2 linked regions of the Homo sapiens genome follow. The protein of the gene in region 2 purifies or fractionates together with the protein of the main gene of each other region. This does not show direct contact. Each region holds a gene or a part of one and is shown on either strand. Other genes may lie near its edges. The genes, in order: DNAJA4 and ZNF146.

Region 1 (3,818 bases), on a different chromosome or scaffold from region 2:
CACCTTACCTGCATGGTCTGATCTGCACTTTGACCCTCCTAAGGAAGATCCCTGGTCTGAGTGAAACTCTCAGGTGCCATGTAACCAAATAAGGGTAGGGTAGATCTGACAGGTGGCCTCTGCTTTAACCCAGCAGCTTACAAGTTTTTTGTGACTTGGGGAAAAGAAATAAGCAGTAATGGCTAAAGACTGAGGTAACCCTAAGTTCGAATTGTAGTCTACCTGTCATGAATAAAATAATGACTAATATCCCTCCAAACAAGCTATAATTTACAGTAGTAGTCCATACAAACTGTAATCCACAGTGGAACTCAGCGAAGTTCTTACCAAAACATCACTTGAGCAGGAAACCCTTTGTAATATGGCTGTGCAATGAGAGGAACGATCCTTTGGAAGGGAGCTCAATCTGGGAGAATGAGGTGGAAAACACTGGGGAGTTCTATGCCTTTGCAGACCCTCAAGTCACCCCGGATTACTGGTCAGAGAAGCTGGCTGTGCCATGGGCCAAACCAGCAGCATTCTCCCTTGGCTTCTGTTGCTGCACTGAGGCTGCCGGGGACACAGAAGGATTTAGTTTTCTTTACAAGTAAGCACTTTGGTGGGAAAGCATTGCAAAAGTTGTCAACAGAAAATCATTAAAACCCTGAAGAACAAGGTGTGAGGGTCACAGGCAAACAGTTATCAGCATATGATTCAAACACTGGTTTGTCCTCACCACAGAGCTTGGAAGGTTCAGAAAACTTCCAAGAGAGATGATCAGACACTCACGTTCCATCCACTGAAGGGCACAGAACAGTAGGAACTAAGTTGGCCCTGTTAAGCAGGCACATGCAGCCATGTCCGATCCACGGATGTGCTTTTATTCTTTAAGAGGATCATCTAGAATCCTCAGAAATGTTATCTTAGCAGCCCTGAGATCATGCCCTCAATAACTCTGCCAAGGGAAGAGGGGAGAAACCACAGACCTAGAGATGAGTCAGGATGCCCACTTTGTGCCTTGGGGTTTGCTAGGGGGGCTAAGCTGCTAACTGGGCTGTGCCTTATTGGTGACACTGAATTATGGCAAAGCCACTAGAAGCACAAAGTATTGGTGCAATCACTGACATCTCAAAAGTATATCCTGAAAATAGAAATGAACAGATTCCATATGCAGACTAGAGGTGATTTATACTTAAAACATTTAAATATAAATTAAGCTATAACTTAAGTTACAACCAAAAGAAAAGCCAAAAAGACACTCAGCAATTAAGAATGCTGAACACATACACAGGACATCCCAAACACAAGGCCATTAAAGCGATGTCATTTTCATTGTGCCAACTTTACATTCATCATGTGCTAGTCCGGTGGGGCCACGCTGCCCCGCACCACGTCATGCCGTCTGGCACTGCACTCCAGCCTGGGGCCCGTCTTCGTCCTCCTCGTAGGCCTCCCTGTGCTGACGCCAGTTCTGCTCATTGGGACAAAACTCCTTCAGCTCCACCTGATCCATGTCATCTGTAATCCTCACTTTCTGTCGAGGAGGGAGTAAAGCTTCCAGCTGAGGAAGCTTTTCCAGAGAAAGCCAGTGTTTTTCAGGAAAGATTACCTGTAAAGGGTGAGGTGGGAAAGAAAGGTGGCTGTTTTTTCCCCTTCCAATTAAGGCATTTAATAATATGTCCATGACAATGAAACATAGTGAACTTACTAAAAACTGTATGATCAGAATCCCTTTTTCCAGGGGTGCTTTGTAGATGGGCATTCCTTCATCGCGCACGCATCTCAGGTCCCCGTGCTTTATCACCTCACCTGCCAGAGAAAGGGTCAATTAGGAAGGAGGAAGGCAGAGGGGCCTGCAGAGGTCGTTCTCCCTCATGGGAGAGCCTGCGGCAGGCCCTAGTGCCCCGTGGCAGTGGGCAAAGGAAACGTGGCATCTGACTGGAAAGCTGGCCCCAATCCCAGGTATCCTTGTCAGGTACTGCCTGGGGAAGGGGCTCAGGCTGAGACTCTGGCCTGTGCTCTGGGCTCCAGCAGTGTGTCAAGAGGGCAGCATGGTGCAGCTGCCATCACAGGTAGGTTTAAAACAAGTGAACTAGAAGTCATGACACCCAAGTCTGCCTAAAATGGGGCCAACACCTGTCACCCTGCCTCTTTGTGGGGTGACAGGTATCCCTACCACGAGGGGGACAGGAGTGCTCCCCACAGACAGGAAGAAGCCTCAATAGAGTCCAACCAGTCCCCTGCCTGGCATAAAAACTGGCTCTTGGCCACCTGCAGGTGACACCCAGGTTCCTTGGTAGGGAGCTCACTAGGTGGCTTGGCCACTGGCAGACTCCTTCATGGTCACAATGCACTTCCATACATGCTGCTGAGCTGGAGTCACCCTCCCGGCTGGCACCCGCTGGGTCTTACAGCTACGTGACTTTGGAAGGCATCAGAGGAGTTCAGACCCCAAGAACTCTAAGGCGTTCTCCCAAGTCAGAAACTTCCCTCTAAGCATGGAAAAGGAAAGGGACAAAAGGGTTTCTGATAAAGCATGCTCTTCAGCTCAGCGATGAAAATGGACAAAGACAGAAAGAAATGTTCGGAAAAAATGGGGGAGACGGTGGAGGGGAATGGAAACACTAATTTCTTCAGCAGTCCACTTCCATACGGGACTATGTAGAAAGTGAGCTGTCTCTTCAAGAGGAAATCTTTAAAGAGGAGGTTTTAAAAATAAAGTAAGCCAATGACTATCCTTGAGATTCATTCGCAGGCAGGGCTGTGGTTCAGACATGGCCTTCAGAGCCTACTGACTGTGCAGGACAGCAACCCCTTAGCTAAACTGCTCCAGGCTGCTGGCTTTTTGTGTTCCTGTTTATTCTTTTTTTTTGAAATACAGTCATGGCCAGGCACGGTGGCTCACGCCTGTAATCCCAGCACTTTGGGAGGCCGAGGCGGGCGGATCACGAGGTCAGGAGTTCGAGACCAGGTTGATCAACATAGTGAAACCCCGTCTCTACTAAAAAAAAAAAAAAAAAAAAAAAATAGAAAAACTAGCCAGGAATGGTGGTGTGTGCCTGTAATCCCAGCTACTTGGGAGGCTGAGGCAGGAGAATGGCGTGAACCCGGGAAGCAGAGTGTACAGTGAGCCAAGATCACGCCATTGCACTCCAGCCTGGGCGACAGAGCGAGACTCCGTCTCAAAAAAAAAAGAAATACAGTCATGCACAGCATAGTGACCTTTCAGTCAACAACATTTATGAAGATGGTTGCAAAGATTACACCAAACTTTTACTGCACCTTTCCTATGTTCAGATACTCACATACTCAGCATCGTACTACAACTGCCCACAGTATTCAGTACAGCAACCTGCTGTGCAGGTTTTAGCCCAGGAGCAACAGGCTATGCCACACAGCCTAGGGTGTAGCAGGCTATGCTATCTAGGTCTGTGTGAGTACATTCTATGGTGTTCACACCACAACGACATCGCCAAACAATGCATCTCTCAGAACATATCCCCTTCGTTAAGTTACATATGACTGGTTTTTCTGTCTCCCCATTCCTATCAGGTGTCGCTTCTTGCTGCTCTCAAGCCCTACTCCCCATGCTTCTGCTTCTAGCTTGCTGGGAGCTGGGAAACTGACCAAGCATGGAAAACTACAGGTAAGAGAAGAAGACCACGAGTTAGGCTCTCCCGGCAGGTAAATACCTGCCTGCAGGCAGGGCCATCACACCCTTGTGTGGCTCCAAAATCACTTTTTTAATTAATCCAATCCTCAGCAATGCTCATAACAGGCTAAAAGGCTCTGGGGAAGAAGGCATTTCAACAGCAGAAAAGAGGAAGAAGAGGGAGAAG
Region 2 (3,818 bases):
CTCACATCTGTAGGCGAGGCGGCAGATCTCTTGAGCCTAGGAGTTCTAGACCAGCCTGGGCAGCGTGTTGAGACCCCGTATCTTTTTTATTTAAAAAAAAAAAGGCCAGACTCGGTGGTTCACCCCTGTAATCCCAACACTTTGGGAGGCCGAGGCAGGCAGATCACCTGAGGTCAAGAGTTTGAGACTGGCCTGGCCAACATGGTAAAACCCCGTTTCTATTAAAAATACAAAAACTAGCTGGGCGTGGTGATGCACACCTATCGTCCCAGCTACTCGGGAGGCTGAGGCAGGAGAATCGGTTGAACCTGGGAGGCGGAGGTTGCAGTGAGCTGAGACTGCACTCCGGCCTGGGCAACAGAGCGAGACTCCATCTCAAAAAAAAAAAAAAAAAACATACAAATTATGTGACTACAAATATGAACATATTTCTTTCTCTTTATAAAATTTTTGAATCTTGGCCTTTGATTATGAAATATTCTACTTATGTAGGTACTACTTATATAAACTTGAATTCAGTTTTCATTAAAATGTTTGTTACTTCTGCCTTTTTTCCTCTTCCCTCTGCTTGTCCATTACTTCATATTTTCCAGAGGAACTTACAAGTTCTCAGCAAATGATACCTTAAACATGGTTTTAGATTTTGCCGTCTATAGTCTGCATTATAATCCGGTTAAAAGGAAGGTCCATGTTTTATTTTTCTGATCAGTAGTTTGAGAACGCATGAGTTGCTGTTAAATAATCTATGAATTTTTTGTGTGGAAATACTGATCAGTTCTTTTTTCTTTTTTCTTTTTTTTTTTTTTCCCGAGACATAGTCTCCCTCTGTCACCCAGGCTGGAGTGCAGTGGTGCGATCTGGGCTCACTACAACCTCCACCTCCCGGTTTCAAGTGATTCTCCTGTCTCAGCCTCTTGAGTAGCTGGGATTATAGGAGCATGCCACCACATCCAGCTAATTTTTTGTATTTTTAGTAGAGACGAGGTTTCACCATGTTGGCCAGGCTTGTCTTAAACTCTTGGCCCCACAGTGCTGGGATTACAGGTGTGAGTCACCATGCCCAGCCATTCAATTATTTTTTCATATGAACATTTTTTAAATATAACAAATGCTGAAGGAATAGTTAAAGAATCTCTTATGTACCCCCCATGTGGATTGAATAATTAATATTTTGCCACGCTTTTGTATGTCCGTATCCATGTGTTTATTTTGTGTGCTGAGGCATCATGATGTTTTACTTCTAAAAAATTAAATATGTATTTTCTACCAAGAAAAGCAGCTCCTGGCCAGGCGTGGTGGCTCACGCCTGTAGTGCCAGCACTTGGGAGGCAGATACGGGCAGATCACCAGATGTCAGGAGTTCCAGACCAGCCTGGCCAACATAGTGAAATCCTGTCTCTACTAAAAATACAAAAATTAGGCGTGGTGATGCATGCCTGTAATCCCAGCTACTTGGGAGGTTGAGGCTTCAAGAATCACTTGAAGCCAGGAGGCCGAGGTTGCAGTGAGTCGAGATCGCACCACTGCACACCAGCCTGAAGGGGTGGGTTTCCCCTCCACAGCTGTGGGCGTTTCTCGTCAGGTGGAAGGACTGACTTGGAAAAGAAAGAGACACAGAAACAAAGTATAGAGAAAGAAAAATGGGCCCAGGGGACCGGCGTTAGGGAGGACCTGCATACGGAGGACCTCTCAAGAGGACCGGCCTCTTGAGTTCCCTTAGTATTTATTGATCATTATCGGGCGTTTCTCGGAGAGGGGGATGTGGCAGGACAATAGGGTAATAGTGGAGAGAAGGTCAGCAGGAAAACGTGAACAAATGTCTCTGCATCATAAACAAGGTAAAGAAAAAAGTGCTGTGCTTTTGATGTGCATATACATAAACATCTCAATGCCTTAAAGAGCAGTGTTGCTGCCAGCATGTCCCACCTCCAGCCCTAAGGCGGTTTTCCCCTATCTCAGTAGATGGAATATACAATCCAGCTTTACACGGAGACATTCCATTGCCCAGGGAAGAGCAGGAGACAGATGCCTTCCTCTTATCTCAACTGCAAAGAGGTCTTCCTTTTTTACTAATCCTCCTCAGCACAGACCCTTTACGGGTGTCGGACTGGGGGACGGTCAGGTCTTTCCCTTCCCGCGGGGCCATATTTCAGACTATCACATGGGGAGAAACCTTGGACAATACCTGGCTTTCCTAGGCAGAGGTCCCTGCGGCCTTCTGTAGTGTGTTGTGTCTCTGGGTACTTGAGATTAGGGAGTGGTGATGACTCTTAAGGAGCATGCTGCCTTCAAGCATTTGTTTAACAAAGCACATCCTGCACAGCCCTTAATCCATTTAACGCTGAGTTGACACAGCACATGTTTCAGTGAGCACAGGGTTGGGGGTAGGGTTACAGATTAACAGCATCTCAAGGCAGAATAATTTTTCTTAGTACAGAACAAAATGGAGTCTCTTATGTCTACTTCTTTCTACACAGACACAGTAACAGTCTGATCTCTCTTTCTTTTCCCCACACAGCCTGGGCGACAGAGCAAGACTGTCTCAAAAAAAAAGGGAGCTCTCCCATATAACAAAATACCGTTTCACACCTTAGAAGATTAACCATGTTGTCCTAATATTAGACTACCCAGTCTATGTTCACATTTTTCCAATTGTCCCCAGAATGCCTTCCATAGTTTTTTAAAATTACAGAATGTAATCAGGGTTCAAGCTTTGCATCTGGTTGCTCGCCACCACGCCCGGCTAATTTTTTGTATTTTTAGTAGAGATGGGGTTTCACTGTGTTAGCCAGGATGGTCTTGATCTCCTGACCTCGTGATCCGCCCACCTCGGCCTCCCAACGTGCTGGGATTACAGGCGTGAGCCACTGCGCCCGGCCAGCCAGCATCTTTTGTCTTCAGCTGCAGAATGGTGCTGCAGGTCTTACCATATATGTGGGTTTAATCTCTGATTTCCGTATAGCAGCTCATTCCTGTCATCTCATTTGCTGAATGCCCCTGAGCTCTGATTAAAATTCTGCAGGGGATAAACTTCCATTTCATATGAAGGTGTGTCCAGTCCTTTGTTCTCGTGACTGGACAGTGCATGTTCAACTGTTCCTTACACTTTTTTTTCAGCCACCATCCTTTATTCCTTTTGAATAAGGGAATTTGTACCATTTTCTCCTTATAATTTTAATGGGGTTTTGGGAGGAAGCACTTGTTGGTTGATCTATTCCTTTTCTTAGAAAGATGAGCATTATTTAGCCAGGTATGGTGGTGCACACCTGTAATCCCAGTTACTCAGGAGGCTGAGGCTAGAGAATTGCTTGAACCCAGGAGGCGGAGGCTGCAGTGAGCCGAGATCGCACCACTGCACTCCAGCCTGGATAACGAGCGAAATTCCGTCTCAAAAAAAAAAAAAGAAGAAAGAAAGATGAACATTATTTTTCTTCCTTAGCATCCCAGGTAGACTTTCTAATTTTCATCTTTTTCTTCTATTTGGCAATTCTTCATTATTTGTTATACAACTTGCTAAATTCTGAAATGGAAAGGTTATTTTTCAAGAGTACTTTCAGCTTTGTGGACCCATGAATGTTAATTTTCTACCTAGATCACCTCAAGTAGGGTTCCCTTCTCATAATTTAGTTGGAAGCATTAATAATATAGATTATTTTCATATTGGGAGATGGGCTACCAGAGTTAATCTCAAAAAATTTTATTGCTAGTAATGGGAAAATTAACAAATAAAAGTGATAGTAATATAAAGGTAAAATGAAGGGCTTACCATATGGCAGCCATGGTTCTGGGCACTTTATGAATTTAACTCCTTTGTGCTA

What was found.
Region 1: the proteins of ZNF146 (region 2) and DNAJA4 purify together in Homo sapiens (affinity purification with mass spectrometry, with the first as the bait; one large-scale study listed by BioGRID). This does not show direct contact.

What each region holds. Positions count from the first base shown.
Region 1 is NC_000015.10:78,278,015-78,281,832, reverse strand, and holds part of DNAJA4 (dnaJ homolog subfamily A member 4), read right to left. Parts: intron 3,626-3,818; exon of another isoform or gene 3,033-3,625; intron 1,789-3,032; coding exon 1,688-1,788; intron 1,589-1,687; coding exon 1,373-1,588; 3' UTR 1-1,372.
Region 2 is NC_000019.10:36,231,818-36,235,635, forward strand, and holds part of ZNF146 (zinc finger protein OZF), read left to right. Parts: intron 1-3,766; exon of another isoform or gene 3,767-3,818.